7 linked regions of the Homo sapiens genome follow. The protein of the gene in region 7 interacts with the protein of the main gene of each other region in a biochemical or structural test. Each region holds a gene or a part of one and is shown on either strand. Other genes may lie near its edges. The genes, in order: GYPC, SCN4B, MTMR1, FOXI1, ARHGEF7, SORCS3 and DLG3.

Region 1 (3,500 bases), on a different chromosome or scaffold from region 7:
AATACATACATAGATACGTACGATGTATGCATGTATATATATATTTACCCAGGGCTAGACTCCTCCATTCCACATTCAAAACCACCTCTGAGGGAGAGAAAAAATGGCCACAGCCACCACTGCCCAAGTCCTTAGGTCAGTTCTCCCCTGGATGTTTTCACCAAGGCCCCCCACCCTGGCTGCTTGAAGGGCTCTGTGATGAGAGCTCACCTGCAATGACGACAATGTCCATTATGGTGGGGGTGGAGGTCTCCATTCTGCCATCCGGCCATCCAGACATCCCTGGATCAGGCTCTGTGAACAGAGGACAAGAATCTGAGGTCAGAGAGGAAGATTCTCCATGCCTAGCAGCACCTTGGCCCAAGCTGCATCCTTTGCTCAGGTGTGAGCAGCTCTGAGAATGGGTCCAAGTGGAAAGGAGCAGTGCGGCGCACCCACTGCTCCTAGCAGGGATGCACAGACCAGGAACCAGGTTCTGCTTGGTCACTGACTGGGATGGAACTGTTTGAACCTGAACCACCAGGTCACTCCAGGCCCATTTGAGTTATCTGCCTAATGCCTGCACTGAGAGTGGTGCTGCACGTGGTAGATGCTCAACAGATATCTGTGCTGTGTATGAAGGCAGGGACTCTTGTTGTGTTTAAGAAAGAATGTTTGTGGAGTGTCTGATGCTCACACCAGGTGTCTCAGTCCATTTTGTGTTGCTATAGCTGAATACTTGGGTAATTTATAAAGAAGAGAGGTTTATTTGGCTCACAGTTCTAGTGGCTGGGAAGTCCAAATTGGGCAGCTGCATCTGGTGAGGGCCTCATACTACTCCCACTCATGGCAAAAAGCAGAAGGGGATCTGACATTCGCAAAGAGACCACAAGGTGATATAGAAAGCAAGAGAGTTTAGAAAGCTGAATTTGCTTTTATAACAACCTGCTCTCCAGTGACTAATCCAGTCTCACGACAGCTAGAACTCCCTCCCTCCCTCAAGGGGGTATTAATGTATGCATGAGGGATCTGCCCCTGTGACTCAAATATCTCCCACTAGGTCCCACCTCCCATCACTGCCACCTTGGGAATCAGATTTCAACATGAGCTTTTGCAGGGTCAAACCACATCCAAACCATAGCACCAGGTGTTGCTTTAACTGCCTTCTATCTACTCTATCATGCAGTCTTCACATCCATCCTATGAGGTGCCTGGTGTTAATGGCCCATCTCACAGGAAGAACACCAAGGTTCAGAGACGTGATGTGCCCTTGATCACACAGCTCATCCGATATCAGGTCAGGACTTGGCCAGTGCTCTTGCCTCTGGAGTGCACTTTCTCTCTTGGAGAAGCCCTTCCCAGGGCTCCTGTCTGAGGAGTCATTCCTGAAGCCCTCCCATAGGTCTTTACATTGACTCTGCTGTGGGAAGGACCACTCTATGACACTATCCAAGTTACTGAGTGTGTTTTTTCACAGCTTAATGACCTGGCCAAAGAGGGTAGGATGTCTAGGACATTGGGGACCGGGATGTTTCCTAGAGCTGCTGCACAGAATGCCTTCTCTCCTCTGGGAGATGATTGTGAAGAAGGATTTATTGGATCACAGAAATATCAGTGTTAACATAGGAAATCCCACGTTCCCATTACAATGGCTCTACATAATAAAACAGAGAAGGATGCTTCATAATAGTCATTTCCACTCAGATAATCACTTTAATTATAGTGCTATGAGGTCATTCTCCCCAGTGCAGCTGCCAGATGCCTCTTTCTTATAAGTAACTGCCTGCTGGAGTCAGGAGTCATAATGGGTGAGGGGAAAACAGACTCCCAGCTAGGGGTCCACAGCAGGACACAGATGGGCCAAGCTAGGGGTGTCTGGGGCCACCAAGGAGCTTGGAGGTGGGGAAGAAGATAATACAAGGCACTGAGGCAGCCCAGGGACCCAGTGAACACTGGCTCAGGATCTGGGTCTCGGGAGCCAGGAACCAGGCAGGGTATAGGATCCAGCATTCACGGTGTTTCTCAGTAGCAAGACCTGAAGCAAGGGCCGTAGCAAGTTCAAGTGGGTGCTAGACTTTATTATATAGAGTGAACAAGTGCAGCCTCCAGTTTAGTATCTAGCACATAGTAGGTACTCAATAAATATTCACTGAATGCATGAGTAAATGCATGCATATATAAATGAATGGATTTAGTGGTGGGGTTCTAGACTTTTCCAATCAACAAGCACCTCAAAGTTCAGAAAGAAAGAATAACACCTTGCTTAAGTAGGCATGGATGGTTATAGAAGCTCAAATACCCAGAACTGCCCTCAGAAATTTTCCAGGTGAAGACAGCATTTATTAGGACAGTTTGTCCAACACAATCAGCGTTAGAAGAGACTGTTATTTCCTCTTCCTTTAAAACAACTAACAATCGCTTACTAGGTGCCAGGTGCAGGTCTCAACATTTAAAGCAATTTAACATGGTCCTTGCAACAGTTGCAAGAACACTGCTTGGAGATTATTCATTCTAAAACCAGGGAAGTCCCAGAAAACAGGGCAGAGCTGGTTGCTGTATGTACACTATACAGGGGGAAAAATGAGGCTATTAACTGTGCTTGGGGCAGGTTGTGTGGTTTGTGTTTTTCAATGGCCCGATGACTGCTCCTCAGCCTACCCTGCTCCCATTCCCTCCTGGCGATTGAGGACTGGGGTGAGTCTGCAGGAGGAGCAGGACTTGGCCACACAAAGGACTGAAGTGGGAGAGGGTAACGCAGAGAATGCCAAGGTGTTGGCTGTGCGAGGGGCAGTCACCCCTCACTTCTGCTGGGACTCCAGAGGGGTGGGGAAGTACAGTGTAAGGCTGCTCAGGAGGGGTCAGATCACTCAGGACCTTGAGAGTGAGGGGGCAGCAGTCTCATGGGGTGGGGGTGTTTTGAGTTTGGGCATTTACTTTGAAGCTGCAGAGCAAGCCTCTGTCTTTTCTTAGAATGCAGGTTTATTTGGAGGCCTTGGGGAGGGACTGCTGAAGAATATGGAAAGTCTGAAACTGCTCCCAAGTCCCACCTTTATAGAACAATTTCCTAAACTTCCTACTGCCTTCAGGGGAACACTTGTATCTGCATAATGTTAATAATATCACCTAGGAAGAATAAAAGCTCAGTGGTGCAATGAGTTGGAGAATGCCAGGTTACACAGAGTCCAACAGGTGTCTTTGATTGCTTGCTTCTGCTGCTTTTTCTTTCTTTTCAAATTGTAGATGTTTCCTGAGTTATTAATAAGCTGCTGAGAAGTGTGGATCTCAAAGAAGGTCGCAGAGCACACAGCACCTCCCAAACTTGGTTGTTCTTCAAACACAGTTTGCAGTCACAGCCATGACCCATGGGGAGCCCGTTGCTCAGGGTTCAAAGCAAGGCAAAGGCAGGCTCAAGTTTCCTTGAGGATGGAGGGTTGGGGGTCATGGACCCAGGGAAGAAAATAATGTGGGATGAGGGAGACGGTGGAGAAGTCTAAGTAGCCTGGTCAGTCTACCCTCATCTC
Region 2 (3,500 bases), on a different chromosome or scaffold from region 7:
TAATATAACTTAAGCCCTGGGGAGAGTAAAGGGAAGATTCTTCCAGATGGAGGCACCACTGAGAGCCAAGGCAGAGAGTCTGGGAAGTGGGCTTGTCTGGAGAACAAGCCTTTTGTTTGTTGAGAGAGCTGTATGGTGAGGTGGTGGGGAGGAGAATAAAAGCCTGCAGAAGGGGTTGGGGACAGACACTTGGGGACCTGGGAGTCGAGGCTGTGATTGACTTCCGACGGCAGGGGAGCTGGCGAGGGCTTGCAGGGCCCTGGCACGATCAGAGAGCACAGAAGAAAGGATCTGGCCATGGTGGGCGGAGGGATTGGGTGGAAGAGCCTGGGGGCAGGGGACAGACCGTAGGGAAGCCTGAGGGAGGTCCTTGGAGTGGCGGGGAATGCCTGCATTACAGCAGAGACAGTGGCTTCTCAAGAACAGGGAGGTACTGGACAACATCTCACCATTGATTCTGAAACGTGGGTGCTGTTTCCTCTGTCTGGAATTTACCCTCTCTCTTTTCCTGCTCATCTTTCTTGGTTTCAAAGAAGCTTGGAAGTTTAAGGTATACTTCCAAAAAGCTTCCCTGACTCCTATGAGGAGGCTTCCTAGGTTGGGTCCCTCCTTCCTACATCCCCCATCCTGTTATTTACCACAGTGTGTCACAATCACTTGTTTAATGTCACATGCCCTAGGAGAGTGCACGTTTCCGACACAGTGCCTGGTACCCAGTAGGTTCTCAGTAGAGAATTATGGACTGCGTGGAATACAGTTCGGTGGGTCGTAATTGGCTGGGTTAACTATGCCTTAGGTACAGAGACAGAAAGAAAGAAAGAGAGAGAGACAGAGAGAGAGAGATGGATCCATCCGAATAGAGGTCTTTAGTGTATTCCACAGGGCTCCACCTGTTCATTGTTATTACTAACATTTGAAGTACACTAGGGATGTCACATTTATCAACTTCCAGAAGCCTAGTAACTATGTTGGAAGAAAAAGGGATCTAGGAAGATCTTGATAGGCTGGAGCTAGGAACTAGGTATTGCAAGATGAAATTAATGAGGACAAAATATTCAGTCCTTCCCAAAGGCCTCAAACCCAGCTGCCCAAGCCCAGGGTGAGGGTAGGATGTAGTTTGGCTGTAGCAGCTGTGAAAAACTTGGCCATTTTCATGAGCAGAAAGCTCAGAGGGATGCAGGTGCTCCCTGGGGAGTTCTGTGTGCCCAGCCTGGGCGCTGCTGTGGAGGAGGGACACACTGAAGTTGGAGCATGTCCAGCTCAGAGCGGTCAGGGTGGAACGCCTCCCGGGAGGTGTCTTCCCATCTCACCATCTCTCCTTCCTCCTGTCTTCTGCTCCGTCCCACCAAACTCTGCCTAGACCTGTCACCCTTGAAGCCAAACCCACTGCCTGCTCTGCCCCTTCCATGGACTCTGTTCTTCCCTTAATACCTCTAGTCACGGAGAGCTCAGGGAGGAAGGCCTGGGGGGCCCTGGGGAGAGGGACTCTGTGTCCTCAGCATACTCCTTGCTGGCCTGGACCCCTCCCCCTGGCGTGGCACAGCCTGGGAACTGACCCCTGAGAACAGCACCTGGTGCCCTTTGCTTCCTGCCATGTTGAGACAACTAGGTGACAGCTAAGCTTTATTGAGAACTTTCTTTTTTTCTTTGTTTGAGACAGAGTCTCGCTCTGTTGCCCAGGCTGGAGTGCAGTGGCACGATCTCAGCTCACTGCAACCTCCGCCTCCCAGGTTCAAGCGATTCTCCTGCCTCAGCCTCCCTAGTAGCTGGGACTATAGGCGCCTGCCACCACGCCTGGCTAATTTTTGTATTTTTAGTAGAGATGGGGTTTTGCCATGTTGGCCAGGCTGGTCTCGAACTCCTGACCTCAAGTGATCTGCCTGCCTCGGCCTCCCAAAGTGCTGGGATTACAGGTGTGAGCCACCGCACCTGGCCAGTTGAGAACTTTCTACATGGCAGGCACTGTTCTAAGTGCTCATTTCTCCTTCCAGCAACCCCACGCAGAAGGTCATCCCTACCTCTATTTCACAAATGAGGGGACTGAGGTACAGAGAGGTTAGGTGACATGGCCTCTGGCTACCTTAGCTCTGTAGAAGGCCAGGGAGAGGCACAGGGCTGGGTGCAGGGCCCACGGCTCCTGCCACAATTCTCCCCCTACTCTTGCTCCTCTCCTCACCACTGTCCCTTCTCTCTCCCTCTCCAGGAAGGAGTGTCTCGTGAGCTCCTCGGGGAATGACAACACGGAGAACGGCTTGCCTGGCTCCAAGGCAGAGGAGAAACCACCTTCAAAAGTGTGAGCCCTGCTTCGGGCTGAGCAGCTGCAGGGAGCCCCCTTTCTGATGATGAAACTGATGCTTGAGCCCCGACCGTAGAACCCACGTGCCTGAGACATCTGCTGCTTGGCTCAAACTGTAGTCTTTCCGGGCACAAGAAACCAGAGTCCTGCCCAGCCTGCCCATCCCCTTCCCAGTCAGGGCTCCCCAGGGACAAGGGATGGCCAGGGGAGGGGGTCTGTGGAAGATTCAGGAGAAAGAAAGGAGAGGCTAGGGTGGTGTGGAGGGGCTGGTCCCCTGACACCTGGGCAGATGGGGTCTCCTTCAGTCTCCCTACCCTGCACAAGCAGGGCCTTGATTTTCCTCCAGGCTTCTCTTCACAAGAGACTGGGAGGATCCGTAAGGGATGTCCTAAGAGCTGCACCCTGGAGATGGGGTGTAGGAAGAAGTGGCTTCCTTTGGAGGTGGGAGTGGGCTGGAGGCCTCTGGAGAAGACCTGGGGTGGGGGCTGATGGGGGCAGGCCCACAGTGAGAGACTGCCTCTGCTTCATAGGATACCAGATCCCCCACAGTCTTCCAAGTAGGAAACTTCCTTTCCCCTGCCCCGGGACCCTATCTGCCTATCCCCTCCCCTGCTCAGAGTTTTTAAGCCCTCTCAACCAGGGCTGGCCACCCTGGTCTTGAGGGTTCCTGGCCACCTAGCCTGCTCCTCTGCTCTCTGGGTTACTGAGGGGCTCAGGAAGGGGCCCCTCGAGCCTTCCTGGAGTACCCGAGTGCTCCCTATGCCTTTCCAAGCATTTCTACTTGGGGAATTGGGCCACAGAGGTAGTGAGCCAGTGTCCTGGGCCTCTGGGATGCCCGCCCCATTGCTGCCAATGCTGGCAGCCCCTCCCCTGGCATGGCAGGACCATCGCCACTCTGGGCACTCCTGAGCCCAGCTCTCCCCTGCTTCTCCCCCTCCTACCTGAGAGGCTGCACCCTCCAACCTCCCATTGGCTCGCTCCCCCCCCCCCACCGTGCCCTCCATCACGCCCTGCCCCCAGGGTGGTTCATTTCCCAGCCCTGGGTCAAGGGCCTGCCTTCGCCTCAGGGACTCTCTTCCTTTGGATGAGGGGGTCCTTGGGTTTCCCAGCTGCTTCCTGCTCAGCTGGGCCACCCCCTCCCACCCTGGGGTTGGGGAGGAGCAGGGAGTGGGTGCCCACAGTTTTCCTTTGCTTCTCCCAGAGC
Region 3 (3,500 bases), about 80 Mb from region 7:
CTAGTAACTCAAATGTTTTCGGGATAGCAACCTCTTCAAATCTCATATCGAATTTAAACTATTATGTAACCCTTTGAAGTAAACCTTTTCCATCGAAGTCCAATTGTCCCTTGGTATCGGTGGGGGATTGATTCCAGGACCTCTGCCTCAGATACCCAAATCCATGGATGTCCAAGTCCTTTATGTCAAATGATGTAGTATTTGCATATAACCTAAGAACATTCTCCCATATACTTTAAATCATCTGTATATTGCTTATAATAACTAATACAGTGTAAACACTATGTAAATAGTTGTTATACTGTATTGTTTAGGGAATAATGACAAGAAAAAATGTCTGTGCATGTTCAGCACAAATGCAACCATCCTTTTAAAAAATATTTTCCATCTGCAGTTGTTCGAATCCTCCAATGTGGAACCCATGGATAGGAAGGGCTGACTGTATTTCTAATTAACGTGGACCTATAACCTAAGTGATTGTTTGTCACATCTCAGAGAAGTCAAGTGAAAAGCAGAGACCAATACATTTCCCCAGTTTGTTGTTTTAAGACTACGTTCAGAACAATGTGGATGGTCAGAGACTTCCTAAAGGGACAGCAGTGGCCCATAAATTCTGTGATTAAAAATGAGATTAAGTTTCTTGGCTATCTTGGAATTTTTATGTTGAGCTGGGCTTATTTGTTTATTTTGTACCCTTCTTCTAATAATTTAAGTAGAAATGTGTGTGATAACTTTAATCACGAAGTCATGTAGGACCCACTCCTAATTGATGTATTTTATTCCCAGTGACTTGACTTTGGTAATGTTTACCAAAAACCCTACCTGAAGTACCAGAAAAGAGATCCTGCCTGCAGGATCATCAGCGCCCCTTCCAAATTTTGGGTTAGGATTCCTTACAATCTATTTATTTTGATTCAATCTCTGAAGATAGCTCCCTCTGGTTGGTCCTAGACTGCGTTCAAAACCATTTTTTTTTTTTCCAAAGAACCCTTTACTCTTCCAGATCATGAATCTGTTGGCTTACTAAACTCACTTTAGTCACTCCCTGACAACTGTCCTTCTCAGGCAGGGTTCCCCATATGGAACAATGGCAAGCAGAGGGGTGACTTGATCGGTTCTGCAATTTTGAAACATGTCGTCCCCTTTCTCATGACGCTTGAGTATCTTCCCATTATCCTTAGACTAAAAGAAAAACTCTCCTTACAAGACTGCTCTGCCTGACCCACTTTCCTCTGCAGCTTGGTCTCGAACTGCCCTCCTCTCATTCTGGCCATCCCAGTCACATGGGCTTTCCTTTGGTGGTTCATACTTGACACACCCACCCACACACACACACACACACACACACACATCCCAGAATCTTTGCATGTGCTCTTTCCTTAGCTTGTAAGCAATCTTAAATAGCAAGTCAGCTCAGTCAGCCACCAAGGTGTATGTGTGTAGCCATGTAGCTTAGAGGGAGGGCATGTCAGGAAATTATGTTGCTTAGGCAGGCATCCTGGGGCTCTTTTACTAAGATATTTTTATGGCTGGGGTGAGCATTTGCTAACAACTGCTTTAAATGTTCTCTAACCTAGATTACTAAGGTAATGCTCCCAGCCTTCTCAGATCATGCCTAAGAGCTTTACAAGGTGTGGGGTTTATTTTTTAACAGGTGATATACAATTCAAAAGATACAAAAGCTGTGTATAGTAAAAAATCAGTCTCCTTCCACCCACCACCCTGCCACCCTGTTCCACTCATTTCAGGCACCCACTGTGGCCGATTTCTAATGTAACCCTCCACAGATAGCCTATGCACATGAGAATGTATGTATAGTCCTTCTTTGAAAACATAAGTGGGGCCAGGCGCAGTGGCTCATGCCTGTAATCCCAGCACTTTGGAAGGCCGAGGCAGTTGGATTACGTGAGGTCAGGAGTTTGAGACCAGCCTGACCAACATAGTGAAACCTTGTCTCTACTAAAAATGCAAAAATTAGCCGGTAGTGGTGGTGGGTGCCTGTAATCCCAGCTACTCGGGAGGCTGAGGCAGGAGAATTGCTTGAACCAGGGAGGCGGAGGTTGCAATGAGTGGAGACTGTGCCGTTGGAGCAGGATAAAGTATAAAAGGAGAAATGAATTAAAAAAAAATAATTTCCTTATTTATGGCACGGTATCTGGCTTATAGGTGCCTGATGTATGTTGAATAACCGAGTTTTGCTAATTGTTTAACAGGATATGAGGAACTTGCGGCTTGCTTATAAACAGGAAGAACAGAGTAAACTAGGGATATTTGAAAACCTCAACAAACATGCATTTCCTCTTTCTAACGGACAGGTAAATACACCAGAGTAAACCTTTTCTGCATGCATTTGTGGGGGTCCAAATATCCTATGTTTAATTATTCCTTTTTCCAGAGGTTTTTTTTTTTCCTCTCTTTTTTCCTCTGTTGGTGACTAATATTAGAATATTTGAAATTTGTCAGTTCTGGGTAATGCTTAAGAAAAGCTGCTACTTTGTTGCTGTAAAATTTACAGACTAAAATAGGAATCTTAATACACTCAGCTCATATTAGAATGAAAAGCTTTAATATTGGGTATATGATATAAAAAGAAATAGTAACATATGTGTTTTGTGGTTTTTGTGTCCAGGCACTATTTGCATTCAGCTATAAAGAAAAATTTCCAATTAATGGCTGGAAAGTTTATGATCCAGTATCTGAATATAAGAGACAGGTAAAGTATATTGCTTATCAAACTGAAAATAATAGGTTGAGCATCTTTTTCTCTTCTAAAAGGTTAGAAATGATGTGGTGGAGAAGAAACTTTTTCGAACAAGTTATGCACAGGTTTAACTGCTAGCTTATAGGTTCTCCATCTTTCCTTGATTCTCTCTTCTCCCTGTGCCAAACCTTAGACTTTGTCATGTTTGTTCATCCTGTTTCCAGAGGGTGAGTGGGACTCAAGGACAAGGACGGGTTTAAAAACCAAATTTGCCAGATGGTTTTTATTAGATGTTCTGGTAAAGAATTGATGAGTAAGGATCCAAACCACTGACTACAGTTAGATTCGAAGCATGTGGTGTGACTACATCTGTCTGATCCAGTGTTCCCGGGTCTGGGAACTCTTCAGTGCATTGTCAGCTTCAAATTATTCCACTAAGATCTTATTTTCATGACGTTTGTTTCATGACGTTGTCTCTACCTTATATTTGGTATAATGTTTTACGTTACTTATTTTAGACATTCGTAAGAGGTATCTGTGTTTCTAAAGGACTTTTGAGTATATTCTCAAAAATAACAGAGCTCATTATTTATAGAAAATAGGACAAGAAATATATAGAAATGTGATTCTAGCGTATAATTTTCATGTTTTAGTATGGTTTGGATATTCTTATGCTTCTTTAGATTTTTAGAAATGTCTAGGAAATGGGTTTTACCGAATAAATATATATATTGACTTTTAAGTTACAATAAACAATAAATTATAAACGGATTTTAGTTGCAAATAAGAAATGGATGTA
Region 4 (4,239 bases), on a different chromosome or scaffold from region 7:
TCATGGACCACCGTGGGGCTGGCATGGAGGACCTCTACTGCTTTTCTCTCTGGCATGTCCACCTGGCTCAGGAGCTGTTCTGTACCTAGACCTCGGTGCCCTCCCTGGGGTAGAGGACACCACTGGTGTTGACACTGTTGTAGAAGTGAGGGCTGAATTGGCTGAGCACAGATCCTCCATAGCTGAGCATGTTGGTGGGCATGGGGTTCGCCCAGTCACCCCCACCGCTGTGGTTGCTGAGGTTGGTGAGCGGGGAGAAGGAGTTGAAGGTCAGTGAGTTCTGCCCCGTCTTGTCACTGGGCTCAGGGCTCAGTCCTGGTGTGACCAAGGGGTGGCTCGTGGGGCTCCCCCCGCTCACATAGGCTGTCATAGAGGAAAGGAAGCTGTTAAGGCAAGGGGCGCCTGATGGGGGAGGGGAGGGCCGCTTCTCTGGGGAGCTGGTGGTGCCCCCTGGTGAGGCTCCATCCAAGATGTCCTGAGGCTCCGTGGTCTTGGGGCTGTCCACCGGGAGACTGCTCTCTGTCTTCTCTAAGGCCAAGGAGGCTGTGCTAGAGGAAACATCTGATTTTCTCTTCCTTTTCCTGCGGAAATTTCCATTGTCGAACATTTTCTCACAGTTGGGGTCCAGGGTCCAGTAATTCCCTTTGCCTGATACAAAAGTGAAAGGGGGTAAATAGAGAGGTGGACAAAATGCTTTGCTTCTGTTCCTCCTTATTGTCATAAACTAAAAGCCAAGGTGACAGATGCAGGAAGACAGAGACCGACAGGCAGGGACTGAGAAATGGAGGAATTCCATCAACTGATGAACCACACCACCTCCATCTTTAATTAAGCAGCCCATGACAGGGCCCTTTGGGACTGCAGCCGAGAGGCATGAGCATTAAGGAGTTTGCAATGTAGGTCTCTTTAAGAAGGATGAAGAACTGGGAGCAGGGATGCTGAGGGATTTGGGGGTTGGGGGTTGGAGGGCTTTCAATGCTGAAGGAAAAGAAGACTCAGGAAAACTCTGGGACTCCCTAATAGCCGTAGGCTTGGAGTCTGAAGACAGACTTGAGTCCTGGCTTTGCTCCTCACTGACTGAGGGGCTTTGGAAGAACCTGTTTTCTAGTCTGAAAAGTGGGCCCATTGCCCCTGTCTTCCTCAGGCCCACTGAGAAAGGATCCACACCGGATATGGAAAGGAGCGTTGCAGCTGGGAGGTACCTTCCCGAGGGAAGGCCTGAACTCTTCCTGCTACCGTCTCTCAGCCTGAGGGTGATGGCAGTCCTTGGACAGGACACTTGCCCTCTTCTGGGGACAAACAGGCCTGGTGTTTGCCACCCTCAAATGGGGCAGAGTTGGGGTTCCTTTGAGCTATACCTTGGCTTCCTGCGGTGGAACAAAAGTGGACTTTAATTCTGGGAAATGGATGCATGAGTATTTAATACATGCCTCTCTGCAGGTCTCTGAGTTTTAGAAATGCATCGTTGAAAAGGAAAAGCTCACAATTTCTGATGTTAGAGAAAACTGAGTTCAAATTCAAGCTCCATCACTATCACTTCATTCTGTGTCACCTCTGAGTGTTATTTTCCTAATCTGTAGAATGGGTTTCATAAGAGCTACCCTGCAGGGGTGTCTTCGGGTTAAAGGAGGTTACCTAAGTAGAAACAAGGCAGGCAGCAAAATGGGCCATTAGTGGCTGTTTAACCCAGGTCAGATCCTCTTCCTGGCAGTCTTGGGATGCCCTTGGGCTTTGGTTGGTCCAGTCATTCATTCACCAAAGACTTTCTATGTGCTGGGTGCTGGAGATGCAGATGAATCGTAATTACTGCAGGCGATTAAGCGCTTGATAACACCTAAAACCTTGTGTACATTATCTCATCACCTCCACTGCAGCCTGCAAAGCAGATGCTGTCACTATCCCTGGTTTTCCGATGAGGGAACTGAGGCTCTGAGGTCTAACCTGCCAGAGGTCACTGACTGGGCAGGAGCACAGCCAGGGCTGAAACCCAAATCTTCCCCCAGGCCCATGCTCTCCTTCACTGCTGAGCTCCCCTCTGTCCTGCCTGGTAGCATCCCCCAGTCTTGGGGGGCACAGCCCTAGTCAGAACTTTCTAGAATGGGGTCTTGGGGAGGAAGGAAGTGAGTCTTCCTTGGGGACACCCCCCACACTCAAAGCCTCCTTACCCGGGTCGTCCTCGTCGCGGGGCACCTTCTTGAAGCAGTCGTTGAGCGACAGGTTGTGGCGGATGGAGTTCTGCCAGCCGGCCTTGCTCTTGTTGTAGAAGGGGAAGTTGTCGGCCACGTACTGGTAGATCTGGCTGAGAGTGAGGCGCTTGTCGGGTGCCCCGTGGATGGCCATGGCGATGAGAGCCGAGTAGGAATAGGGTGGCCGCACCAGCTTCATCAGCTCCTCCTGCGAGGGGATGGGCAGCCAGCCCAGGTCGCTCCCCCCAAGCCCCGACACGCTGGGCAGCAGCGGCCTCTGCACTCCATAGGCCTGGGGCAGGAAGGGGCTGGCGTTGGGGCCGGGCAGGTAGGGTGGCGGGGTCATGGTGGGCCCGTTGAACCAGAGGTAGGGGTTGGGGGTGGCCCCATACTCGCCGCCCCCCTCGAAGGAGGGCCGCTGAGGGCTGGGCACGCCCTGTGGGTGGAAGAAGTTCTCATAGTAGAGGTTCATCTCGGGGGGCTCCTGGCCGATGCTGGGGAACTGGGGGCTGCAGCGAGGTGGGGAGGGCGCCGGCAGGTCGAAGGAGCTCATGCTGGGGCTGGGCTGGCCGGAGCCACCTGCCTGGCACCTGCACCCCGGAGCTGCCCCTGACAGGTGCTCAGCAGGCCCGGCCTCCCACTTATACCCCTAGGGCTTGGCCGGGCGGCCCCACCCAGGGGCGGCCACCTGCCTGTGGATCCCAGCCCAGGGCCCGCCCTCCCTCAGCCTCCAGCCCACGGGGAGGGGACTTTCCCGCTGGCGCCTCAGGTCCCCACTAATGACATGCTAGACGGCTTACCAGAGCTGACACGCAGCGCAGCGAGAACGCCCCTCTATCCTCTCTCCCGGCTTTCTCTCCTGTCTTTTCTCACCATCCTCATGATTCCCTTCTTCTTTTTCTCCTTTATTCTGTCTTACTTCTCTCATTTTTTTTTCTGTCCTTCCCTTTCGTCACATTTTTCTACCCACCTCGGTTTCCTTCTCTCTCTCCCTCCTCTCCTCTCTGCATCTCATTCTCTGTTTCTTTCCTTCTTATTTTCTTTCCTCCCTTCTGCTCTGAACTGTGTTTCTTTTCTATGAACTGATCTGGCCACATCACAGCTGCTCATTCCCGTTCTCTCTCTCTCTCTCTCTCTCTCCCCCTCCCTCTCTCCCTCTCTCCCTCTGTCTCTAGGCTTCCAGTTCTTCTTTCCACTTCCATCTCTCGCTTCCATTCTCATTGTCTTCCCGGCTTCTCCCCTTTCTCCTTCTCTTTCACTCTGTCCCTTTCTCTCCACCTCTCATTTTCTCTGCGCCTCTCTTCCCATCCCCTCATTCTCCCTCCTCTTCCCCCCAATGTCCCCTCATTCTCTAACCAACTGCCCCAGCCGGGACTGGGTGGGACACTTTATCAGAAACCCTGTTTCTTGGTCTTTTGAGGTGAGGAGGCACTTTCTGGAGTTGCCAGGAGAGAACCGGCCCTGGAGACTCAGAAGAGGGCGCAGAGGGGCCTGGGCTGGCTTCTGGTGGGGTTCAAGGGGGCAACCAGTCATAGGCACCGCAGCCTCCCCCAACACACACATACACGCACACACGCGTACGCGCACACGCACACACGCGCACACGCACACGCGCACGCCCACACACGCGCACACGCCCACGCACGCACGCGCACACACGCACGCACACACACACGCATATGCATACATGCTGCAGACGGGCAGAGAACCTGAGAATTTGCCTGGAGAGCAGCAAGGCTCTTAAAAATAATAGCAAAAGGGGAAAATGGGGAATCAGTCTTCAGGGAAAAGTGAGAGAACTTGAACAATTCAAGTTTCTTTCCAGCTGCAGGGCAAGCAGGCTCCCAGCTCCTCTCTGATCCAAAGACCTTTCATGTTTCAGCTCGCAGAGGCCCCTGGCATGGAGGCAGCCAGGGCACGAGGAGAGCGCCCGACTCACCATGCCCCAGGCGTCCTCTCTCTCTCTCCCTCAGGCTCCAGAAGCAGGAGCTGCAGCCCCTGCTGGCTTCTCCCTGTGGCTCAGCCAGCTCCTCTCCTATCTGGGCTCCATCCT
Region 5 (3,500 bases), on a different chromosome or scaffold from region 7:
AGTAGCTCACAAATTATAAGATAGAGCTTCTATTAGACATTTTTCATCGCTTGAGATGCCTTTAAAATCTTCTGCTATGAGCTCCTAAGAGTGGGACAGAAACCCTGGTGCGTGCATGTGGGCAGCAGTACCTCACTTCCGGCACACTGAATCAGGACCTGGGACATGTAAGTGACGTTGCCCAGAGTTTTAATGTCATCGCCCTCCCAGTTCCGGATGGCTTCCGTCAGGATCTGCAGCTCAAGCTCTTTCCTCTTCCGGACTTCTTGACATTGGGCCTGACAGACACAGAACAACACTGTTAACAGACATAAACTTTCAGAATGTTAAGTTCCGGCCACATTGCTTTGTATCATCCTTAAGACAATTATTGCTTTATATCTTACTTCTTCAGACAGATAATTTATTGAGCGATTTGCTTAATTATAGGGAATTGAAAGTATTTGCTTAGAAGTATGAAACCAAGTTAAGAGAAGCAACACACACAACTGCTCTGGAATACTAAGTATTATTTTAGAAAGATAGAGCACATTTTGCCACTTGTACAAAAAAGAAATGTGGACAGGACAAGAACTGTATTTTCATTCTGGTTTTGTTCGTGTTTGCCAATATGGAAGACTGAAAAGAAGAAACAGAAAGTATAACTTGTGCTATAAAATAAGGCCATATATTTCCAAAACGCAGTTGGTAAGACAACACAACAGCAGAGAAAATGGAACCACCATTGTTCTGTTTTGCAATAAATCATTAAAGACAACATGAATGAAGGGTAAAAAAATGTTTTAAACAATTTTAAAGTAGATCTAACATCAATTACACAGTGACTTTAAAAAATTTAAATAATTATTCTATCATAGTCCACTAAAAGGAGTTTACCAGCCACAGAATGCCGACTCTGTTTTTCTTTCATGTCAGCACAAGTCATTTTTTAATCATTTGACTTTTTCAGTTGATAATTCTTTTACATTCATTTGTCACAATAATGTCTGGGGGGGAAAACAATATGCTTAATCACTTACTGAAAGGTTTTTGAAGGCAGCCATGGATTTTTGAATATCTTGTCTATCTGTATGATAATCCTTTGAGTAAAAGAAACATACAATTAGCTTTCATAAGGAAAAGCTTTTCTTAAAAAGGTACTTTCTACAGACCAGCTTGAAACTTTTCTAACACTTTTCAACCCTTAACATTCCCTTTTTCCCTCAGCATTAAAGTGTCAGTCTTTCAGCAAATCACGAAGCCATTAGACTTTGGGGAAATATAAGTTGGAAGAGAACAGTCACAAGCAGCAGGGGTGGGGAAGCCAACACTTGCTTCATCAATAAAGTCTTATTGGAACACTGCCACGGCTCACATACAGTATCTAAAATGGCAGAGCTGTGTAGCCGTGAAGAAGACCCTACAGTCTGCCCCCTTATAGAAAAGGTTTGCCAACTCAAGCCAAGAGAGTAACTTCAACCCAAATTTCTGCTAGGCTGCAACCTGTTATTCAAAATTAAAAGAGCACAATCATTCATCAAATGATTAGTACAGTATTACCCTATAACCTATGCACACATTGTTTGTAGCTGGATGATCCAGGTAAGACATCTCAACACTATCTGAAAATCAGTTCTCATGTTTCAGCTTTTGGAAACTTTTCAATCAGCAGCAGTGGGTAAAAGAGAGATAAGGGGTAAATGTTTTCTAATAGAGCTGGAATAAGGAGAAAAACATAATATTTAACAAAACTCTTTGTAAACTCTGTTGGTTCTGGCTTCTAAAATAAATCATGAATAATACTTTCTTTCACAGTAAGTCTGACCATGCCACTAACCCTTGGTAAGGACTCCAAGTAAGAGAATGAAAGCGCAGTACCTCCATGTGTCTCTCGAGCTCTTTGAGCAGCGTAGGGTATTTATCCAGGCGCATGAAGGGTTTGCTCAGGCCCGTGGTCAGCACGAGAATCCCAGGGCTGCTGGCACCTTTGGTCTCCATGAACTCCCCCAACTCCTCACTGGGCAGCAAGTGGCAAGAGAGACACTCGTGGTTAGCAATGAGAGACAATGGTGGCTCTCTCATCTCCATGAGCAACAGCCAGAATTTATGAAACATAAGTGTTGCTTTTAACATCTGGAAGGCTCCAGCTTTTATCCCAAATCTGCGCTGCTTATCTGGAAATGCCAAAGGGGACTCCCATCCCTAAGGGGTCCCGTTCCTGCTCTCATATGAGCAACAATAACTATACACAGCACAGGACATGTGGGTCTCCATGAGATCCTACTGATGGCGAGGTCCTCCAGCACATCAGTGCCATGCAGACATATCCAATGGAAACATGCACACTCAGAGCCAGAATGGATTCCAATAATCTCAGAGTCTCAAGGTGGTAGAACAAGGACCGAGCTGCTCCGGTAAAGAGCTAGAGCACACTGATGGTAGTCATCCCCAGATGCGAGTTCGTCCAGCGAGCAGGCCCCACCTATGTGCTGCCAGCACTCAGCCTGGGAGTAGGCAATGGCTCTTGGGGTGAGGAGCACGAGAAGCAGCAAGAGAAGAGAGCAAACGCTGATTTAGGCTTCAGAACTTCAAAAGCTTTAAGTTTAATCCTCACAATACGTGAGGAAGAAAGGGGTCCCTGTGTGCAGACAGCGAATGTTGATTTACGCTTTAGAACTTCAAAAGCATTGTTACATTCAATCCTCACAACACGTAAGGAAGGAAGGTGTCCCTGTGTATGGACATAGAAACAGTGCATATCCCAAAATTAAAGAGTCAGAAACAAGTTTTAGAACTTTCTGTATTCCTCTTCAACCATCCCCTTCACAGTGCCTCGCCTATCTTTCCCTACAGTGGGTCCTCATGTGTGTCATCTTTGTCCTCAGAGTTCCCATGGCTGTGGCAGAGGACACGGGCAGGCTTCTGTGGGGGGTCCAGCTCTTCACCCACACGTTTGTTAAGGCTGACAGTCACCTGACCGCAACACCCCTTCACTGGCGATCTCTGAGGTCTCTGTCAGGCCCTGGGTCTGCTGTCCCTCAAATTGCATGTGCCATCAGTCCACACATCTGACAGTGTACAGCCCACAGAAAGGAGGGGAGGCAGCACCAGCGCTGGCAGCCGATGCCAGGTCCAGACCAGGATGACTTCTCAGTCACCACATCCCATCCAGGAGACCCAGGTGACCCCCGCCCCATCACCACGCCCCATCCTAGAAGATAGGGGTCTCTAGTCAGCAGAGCTTGGTTCAAATGATACCCATGGCACAAATCCTAGGAACAAATTTTCCTAGTCTAGAGGTTTTCCCTTAAAAGGAAAAGATACTTTTATATCCTCATTATGTAAACGATGTCCTAAAATAAACATGAAAATCCTAACAGCAAAACTGAGAAACAAGCCAATTTCCGGTTCTGGTCTCACAGGAGCCTCCCACCGCACCACCCCAGCCAAGCTGGCTACTGCCAGAGGTCTCGGGGACACCAGAACCATCAAGGGCTCCCGGGGAAAAGACAGACAGTGTT
Region 6 (3,500 bases), on a different chromosome or scaffold from region 7:
ATAACTGCCTCTTTAGCCCCTAGGCTGGACCTGTCTCTTCTGACCACATTTTGTAGGCAATACGAGAGAGAGATCCTTGATTATCAGGTCTGTGAGCCTGTGTAAAGAAGATGGAGAAGCATACTCACATGGCCCTGTCTTTGAGACTTTAAGGAAATCTCCTGGAGAGTCACTGGGAAACCAGTTTCAGCAACATTGACCCAGCTGGTTTTTCTCCTGTCCCCCTTTCCTGATGGCAGGAAAAGAAGGTGTTGTAAATAAAAGCCAGGGTGAAGAGTGATGGGGATGAGGACACTTTGGGAAGATTCCTTCATCATTGGTTTCAAAGTGGAGGGAGATGTCCGTAAAACAGAGAACATGGGGCCTAGCTCCAGGCTCTTATGACGTGGAAAGAGAATTTTATCTTTTATTCTGGCTTCTGGAGTATTAGACATGTCCTTATTCAGGAGGCCACCAGTTTAATTTTTAACACAATGAGGGTTTCCTTGCTCTTCTTCCAAGTGTCTCTGATGCACCTGATTGCTTGATATGAGTTCCCTTTTGGGGAGCGTTTTCAGTAACCCTATGAAATTGAAAATTGAACTCCATTCTGACTGAGTTTACAGTCAGGGATGCAGGGTGGGACATGAAGGAGAAGGGCCTTCAGCCCACCCCATTGGTCCAGTGTGTGCCCCAGGTGGTTGAGGGTGCAGGAGGAGACCCTTGACCAAGGCTTGGGCTGGGTATTTGCCTTGGTCCCAGGACTGAGAAGAGATGGCTTTGGGGACAAAGGAGAAGGAGTGCAACTGGCTTTGGGCAAAGGAATCAGGAGGGCATGGGATCTGGGTACCACCTCTTGACCATGTTGCCTGCCAGGTGCTCTGGCTGGAAAGTGAGTGGACTTGGCCTTGGACCCTTTACTCTGGAGGAGCGATTTGCTATTTTTTCTCTCCAGTTGCCTCCAGCTGGAATCCTGGTGATTAATGGGTTAGAGAGTGTTTCAAAAACACCCAGAGGGAGCCCAGTCCCCGTGGCTTACAGGGAAACAGAAAAACACATTATTCTGTCCTTTTCCTTCAAATGAAAGAAGAAGCCTCCCTGCTTGCTCAGTGAGTTGGCAAATGGCTCTGGAGAGTGGAAAGTTGTGAAGGCACAGTCCACTTCTCCACACCCCCTCCTTCTTGGATTAACCCTTCATGGGGCCCCCATTCCTGGTGCCAAGGTGAAAACACTGCATCTGCCCTCACATTGGTCTTCATTTCCTTCCAGCAGCGCACTCGAAGTGGCAGCGATTTGCAGGCTGCTGCCCCTGCAGTGTATCTGCTTGGAATACTTGCCAGGTAGTTCTCAATTAATGGGCCCAACACTGCATCTTGGTGAAGAGAAATGGGGAGATGCTGATATTTCTAGGCCCTCCCAGATCACCCTGCCCTGAGCGTACTAGTAGGTGTAACACAGATTCTCCCAGGCAGGATTTCCTACCCTTAACTAATTCAGCTGGACTGTGTTCTAAAATATTTACTCCTAATGTGCAAAATAGTGACAGATTTGATCAGATTAATTGTATTTCACTCACTGGATCATCTAATTGTGGCTCCCAAACAGATTTTTCAAATAGCTTTTGGCTGGATTGCTTGTCTTCATCCTCCCTGCTCACAGTTCCTGTGTCACAATATCTTAATGCATTCTGCCTTTTTGGAGGCTTAATAAAGAAGCTTGCCACAGAAGCCATTCTTCAGGGTTTTGCCAAAAAAATTGTTTTCAATTAGTATTACAAGGGGAAACCATCTCAGTTGAGATGTAGCTGGGAAATGCATGGGGACATAACGGTACTAATTGCTCCTGGTCATTGTTGGTCTGAGGGGCCGTAGGGAGAGGAGGAGCTGGGCACAGCCTATTTATCTGCTCAGTGATTTCTCTGATGGCTGGATTACAGGATGTGATTTCCTTCTCAGATCCTTCAGTGATTTCCAAGGTGAGCAGAAGTTGCAGATTCCTTAATTGGGAGGCCTGATTTAATGATTACAGAAATGCAGTGGCTGGAACTTGCTTTGTAGCTGGCAAAGAAGGAATGCCCGGGAGTGGCTTCTCCAGTGGTGTTGGATTTAAGGGAAAGGGAGGGTGACTTCAGTGGCAGGAAGGCTCAGTGGACAGAAGGGAAAATTGCTTTTTCTTTGGGCTGTGTAAATCTATTGTCAGTGAAGGAATCCTGGAACTGGATGATCTGTGGGCCCTGAATCATCTCATAAGGAGCAGAGAGGTGCAACAAAGCAGACACTCTGTGATAGAAAGATTTGGCTGGAGACTAGTGGTTTATCCAAGGCTAGGTATAGATTGGCTAAGTCACTTAAGGCCTGTGGCTTGACCTACCTGTTGATTTCCCGCTTTCTGCCTTCTTTTGGCCTCTTGGCTGGTTTGAGACACTTCCCTTACAGGGAGAAAATGTCAAAGGAGGATTCTGCAGTAAGTTTGAAGGAGAAAAGAGGCCTTGTGGAGGAGGAGGTGGGAGATATAGAATGTGAGTGCCTAGTGGGTCACTAGGCAGTTCTGGTAAGCAGAACTGGCTCTGTGGGATGGATCGAATTTGGCTAACCAAGTTTATTCTCCTGGTGTTGTGGGTAACTGAGAAAAGGCTCTGGATAGGGCTCTGACTTTGTTGGTAGTCAGTGGAGATGAGGGAGCTTTGCCTTACACATGGTTGGCACTTGATAATGTTTGACTGAGTGAATGAAAGACAGTCTCAAGTCTCATCAAGCAGAGGCTATAAAGGAATTAGAAATTGTTGTTGCCTGGGATAGCAATGATTTCAGAACTTGACAGCTACCATAGCCAGGAGTGTTTCATCCAGTGTGTCTACATTCTGGCTTGAGGAACTTCGGTTTCTTAAATTCAGATCCAGAGTCCATTAGCCTGGCATTCAAGGCTATGTATGTCCCGGGTCTACTTCTCCAACTTTGGATTTGACTCTTCCCTGATTGACTCCTGCATTCTGGCCAGGGCAGCGTCTTCATTGTCCCAAGCATCTTGAGGTCTGTTCCACTTGGGGTACCCTTCTTTCTTGATGAAAGGGCACCTGTTATTCATAGCTCAGTTCAACATTCAGACTCAGTGGCTCTGTGAAACTTTCCTTAGAAGCATTTATTTCTCTTTTCCCCTACTTGTTTATAGAATTTGCAGAGTGCACCACACATTTTGTCATATTTAGTTTAGTACTTACTTTAGTCTTATATTATTTGGTGAGTGATTTGAGGGTAAGAGCTGAAATAATTAAAACAGCACCCCTTCCCTCCAATCACCATCAAGTGCGAGTTCTGTTCTTCTCATCCGTGCCTGGCAGCATGTGCCGTAGGGTAGTACATAGCTCAGTAATACTGAACTCACCTGGGGAGTTGGACTGTGCCTTAGCTGCAGGGTAAGAGGAGAGGAAAGAAGATCATTTTGCCCTAAGATAACTAACAGGTTAACACTGTCTCTTAATAACACTGAGTTTAGACAACTGGTGTATTATTTCATGTATGAAT
Region 7 (3,500 bases):
GGTCAGGAGATCGAGACCATCCTTGCCAACATGGAGAAACCCCGTCTCTACTAAAAATACAAAAAATTAGCCAGGCATGGTGGCAGGCACCTGTAATCCCAGCTACTCGGGAGGCTGAGGCAGGAGAATTGCTTGAACCCAGGAGGTGGAGTTCGCAGTGAGCTGACATCGTGCCACTGCACTCCAGCCTGGCGACAGAGCAAGACTCCGTCTCAAACAAACAAACAAAAAAACAAAGACAGAACTGGGATCTGGACTCAGTTCTGTGCACTATCCTCTGCGGCTTCTCTCTCTCCTCTTTTTAAAATTCACTCTCCATAGAAATTGTCAAAAATTGCCAATGCTGACTCTATGGCAAGTCTTCACGATGGGGTACTGAGCAAAGTTTTCAATTAGCAATAATGGCGCCTCAGATAAACCTTATTGGCTGCTACAGTGCCACCACTGAGCAAAGCTGCTTGCCCTCTCTTAACAAAGGGTATGAACTTCTTCCCCTCCAGAAACCAGGGGACAGAGCTTTAGACCAGGGACAGGGGCTGATGAGTACGTACTGCTGGCGTAGTCAGGGGGAGCGTACATGTCGTTGAGGTGGAGGCTGCCTGGCTTGGCCACCTTCAAATACACCATATCAGATGTGTTCTTCAGTGAGGCCACAGCTTCCTCGTGCCTCACATCCTGCAGATTGGTGTTGTTCACCTAGAAGAGGAGAGGCCTCAGGCTGGGACTTGGAAGAAGGAGAGGCTTCTCCAGGGAACTCGAGGGATGCCTTTTCAGTGAAATTCAACAGCATGCTAACAAAGGCCCAAGTATAGTGCTGTGAGGAGCAGAGGCAGGAGGTAGGGGATAGGGCAAGACCCTGGCCACAGAAAGAATTAGGGCCTTTGTATCTGGGCAAACACAACACAGATGATAACTCTTGAAATTCCCCCATGATGCCTCATCCCTGAGTGAGGTTTAGGCGGAGTAAGGGGTACTGGAGCTCCTCCTCCCTACCCTACCATTTGGGCATCCCCATGAAGTCTGTCTCACCGCCAGCAGCCGGTCCCCAATCTGTAGGCGTCCATCCTTCTGAGCAGCACCCCCCTCAATGATCTTGGTGATGTAGATGCTGTTGTCTCCTGGGATGTGCTGGTTGCCAATACCCCCAGCAATGCTGAAACCCAGGCCTGAGCGGGAGCCAGCAGGAGGTGGGAGAGGGCCACAAGGAGAGGTTAAAGTGTTGTCGATCCCAAATCCAAACCCCCTCCCCCAGCCAACCCACTGGCCCCACAGGAGCTCCCCCCGGGGGATCCAAACGCTAAGCTGCCATCCTGAGATGAGTAAGGGTGAGGCCTGAGGTCAAAAAAGTAGGCTGTGAGTTGGAACAGGGGGAGTCAGGCAAGGAGTAAGGCCATTCCCTTCCAATTCCCTATGGGGCAAGATGGGATCTGGGGCCTAAGGCTCTGGCTGGAGCACAGGAACCTGGAGGGCCGCACCTTTGGGCCCTTTGAGCAGGTTGACCTCCATGATGGTCTCGGGTGGAGGCTGTCGCCTCCGCACCACCAATCGCACCACAGGGCCTGCCTCCTTCAGCGCCTCCACCGCCCGGCTGTGTACCACCTCCGACACGTCCACCTCATTCACCCGCAGCACACAGTCATTCACCCTGTGGGGGAAGCCCGAGAGGCATGACACTGTGCCCCTACCCCTCCACCCCCTCTCCTGCTTCCTCCCACTTCTCTGTCCTCCCCTCCTCTGCCCTCCCACCCCGCCCTCAGATCTAATGGAAGGGTCATCCTGCCAGGCAGGCTTTCCTCCCCTCATCTCGATCCTGTCCCTGCCACCCACAACCCTGCTTCCAGGCCATCTCACCCCAGCCTCCCATCCATGGCAGCTGCTCCACCAGGGATAATCTTGGTAATAAAGATGCCAGGGTCATCAGGGACATGGGGATTGTCGATGCCACCTGCGATACTGAAGCCCAGGCCAGAGTTGCCCTGCAGAAGTGGGTGGAAAGGCACAGTCTGTTCACTCTGAGGGCACAAAGGAGAGTTCTGGGTACCTCATCTCCCCTTATATCCCAGAGCTAGTTCTCCAGGCCTCAGAAGGGGCCATGGCAGGCTGGGCACATTTGTCAGACACCCAGCCTCTGCTGATCATTTTGGGAAACCCATCCCCTCCCCAATTCCCCAGGCCTCAGTGAGCAAGGTCAATTAATATTTGTTAGTGGGTTGATTGATTGATGCAGTGAAGCAGCCTCTGAGGGCCGCTGTTTCACCATCCTCTAAATGCAGGTCCCCCCATGGGTCTTGAAACCATGATTCAGGGGTCTCCCTTATCCTGGCTCCAACCCTCTCCTTCCCTTTCCGCTTTTCCCCACTGGCAGACTCACCCTCTCAAGTACGATTTCCTCATATTTGAACATGCCATCACTGCCATTCACCTAGGGGGAGACACAGGCAGTTCCCTTAGTGCCCCCTGCCCTTCCAGCCATCTGCCCCTTAGTCAACCTGCCTCCTCCCCTACTCCCACAGAGTAGAAGAGCCCAAGTGCACCCCAGGTCACCTCTTGGCCACAGATGAGGACAGGCTGACCTGGAAGAGGCCGCTCCTCACTCACCCCACCAATCCCTGCTTTGCTTCCAACCATATCAGCCCAAACCAAGCTGCTCATTTAGCCCAGATCAATTGTCTGAGACTGAGCCAGCCAGTGGTGCACTCACCGAGAGGCTGTGCTTCAGTGTCTCAGGGTTCACTAGGAGGGGTGCAGGCCTGGCCTAAGGGGGATGGCAGAGATGGAGCATGGCAGGCAAACCATGCCACACCCAGTGTCCATAGGGGATACCCAGTGGCCTAGACAGATAACCCTTCCCCTTCTGAACCACAGTTCTCCCTGACTGGGGGATCATAGACTCCCACTGTGTCCGAACTGGAAGGACAGCAGACATCATCTTGTCCTATCCCCTTTATGTGACAGTAGGTGACACGGAGGCCCAGAGAAGACATGGGATGTGCCTAAGGGCACACTGGGAATTAGTGACAGAGCAATAGGATATCCAGGTGTTCTTTTGATTACAGTAAGCTCTTAAGGCCACTGATGTTTTGGTCACTCATCCCCGTACCCCAGCAGAGCTCATGGGAAAAAGGACAGTTGCCCCACTTTGGAGCACCTCGTGAGTCTTCACTCTATACCTCTTTCTTGGACTCCAGGAACCCAATTCCTCAAATAGGCAGAAGGAGTCAAAGTCCTAATCCATTTTCTACCAAAGGATTTTTGATTCTGAGCCCTTTGTTTTTCCCAGCAGAAAGGGCGAGGGTGGGATCTGGTCAGGAGTCAGAGACAAAGCCACGGGTGGGACTGGAGCAGGGTAGACAAGATTCCCCATGAGGGAGAAGTTGGTGACCCACAGGCTGATTGGCAGCAGAGTCCATGGTTTTCAATATGTAGTAGCCATGCAAGAAGAGGCAAGGGAAGGGGTCAGAAACACAGGGGTGATTTGGCCAACCCACAGAGATGGCCTC

What was found.
Region 1: the proteins of DLG3 (region 7) and GYPC interact in a test that uses a peptide from one of them, tested with the Homo sapiens proteins (one large-scale study listed by IntAct).
Region 2: the proteins of DLG3 (region 7) and SCN4B interact in a test that uses a peptide from one of them, tested with the Homo sapiens proteins (one large-scale study listed by IntAct).
Region 3: the proteins of DLG3 (region 7) and MTMR1 interact in a test that uses a peptide from one of them, tested with the Homo sapiens proteins (one large-scale study listed by IntAct).
Region 4: the proteins of DLG3 (region 7) and FOXI1 interact in a test that uses a peptide from one of them, tested with the Homo sapiens proteins (one large-scale study listed by IntAct).
Region 5: the proteins of DLG3 (region 7) and ARHGEF7 interact in a test that uses a peptide from one of them, tested with the Homo sapiens proteins (one large-scale study listed by IntAct).
Region 6: the proteins of DLG3 (region 7) and SORCS3 interact in a test that uses a peptide from one of them, tested with the Homo sapiens proteins (one large-scale study listed by IntAct).

What each region holds. Positions count from the first base shown.
Region 1 is NC_000002.12:126,690,658-126,694,157, reverse strand, and holds part of GYPC (glycophorin-C), read right to left. Parts: intron 295-3,500; coding exon 211-294; intron 1-210. UniProt on the Homo sapiens protein: This protein is a minor sialoglycoprotein in human erythrocyte membranes. The blood group Gerbich antigens and receptors for Plasmodium falciparum merozoites are most likely located within the extracellular domain.
Region 2 is NC_000011.10:118,135,824-118,139,323, reverse strand, and holds part of SCN4B (sodium channel regulatory subunit beta-4 isoform 1 precursor), read left to right. Parts: intron 1-2,203; coding exon 2,204-2,297; 3' UTR 2,298-3,500. UniProt on the Homo sapiens protein: Regulatory subunit of multiple voltage-gated sodium (Nav) channels directly mediating the depolarization of excitable membranes.
Region 3 is NC_000023.11:150,727,896-150,731,395, forward strand, and holds part of MTMR1 (phosphatidylinositol-3-phosphate phosphatase MTMR1), read left to right. Parts: intron 1-2,213; coding exon 2,214-2,315; intron 2,316-2,629; coding exon 2,630-2,713; intron 2,714-3,500. UniProt on the Homo sapiens protein: Lipid phosphatase that specifically dephosphorylates the D-3 position of phosphatidylinositol 3-phosphate, generating phosphatidylinositol. Could also dephosphorylate phosphatidylinositol 3,5-bisphosphate to produce phosphatidylinositol 5-phosphate.
Region 4 is NC_000005.10:170,104,458-170,108,696, reverse strand, and holds the start of FOXI1 (forkhead box protein I1), read right to left. Parts: upstream 2,801-4,239; 5' UTR 2,740-2,800; coding exon 2,166-2,739; intron 1,781-2,165; exon of another isoform or gene 1,636-1,780; intron 649-1,635; coding exon 86-648; 3' UTR 1-85. UniProt on the Homo sapiens protein: Transcriptional activator required for the development of normal hearing, sense of balance and kidney function.
Region 5 is NC_000013.11:111,272,310-111,275,809, reverse strand, and holds part of ARHGEF7 (rho guanine nucleotide exchange factor 7), read right to left. Parts: intron 1,997-3,500; coding exon 1,858-1,996; intron 1,080-1,857; coding exon 1,020-1,079; intron 279-1,019; coding exon 132-278; intron 1-131. UniProt on the Homo sapiens protein: Acts as a RAC1 guanine nucleotide exchange factor (GEF) and can induce membrane ruffling. Functions in cell migration, attachment and cell spreading. Promotes targeting of RAC1 to focal adhesions. May function as a positive regulator of apoptosis.
Region 6 is NC_000010.11:104,644,290-104,647,789, forward strand, and holds part of SORCS3 (VPS10 domain-containing receptor SorCS3 precursor), read left to right. Parts: intron 1-3,500. UniProt on the Homo sapiens protein: Plays an important role in modulating synaptic transmission and plasticity in the hippocampus, probably by affecting the trafficking and localization ofAMPA-type glutamate receptors in the postsynaptic density.
Region 7 is NC_000023.11:70,447,835-70,451,334, reverse strand, and holds part of DLG3 (disks large homolog 3), read right to left. Parts: intron 2,423-3,500; coding exon 2,372-2,422; intron 1,977-2,371; coding exon 1,852-1,976; intron 1,646-1,851; coding exon 1,476-1,645; intron 1,167-1,475; coding exon 1,030-1,166; intron 697-1,029; coding exon 552-696; intron 1-551. UniProt on the Homo sapiens protein: Required for learning most likely through its role in synaptic plasticity following NMDA receptor signaling.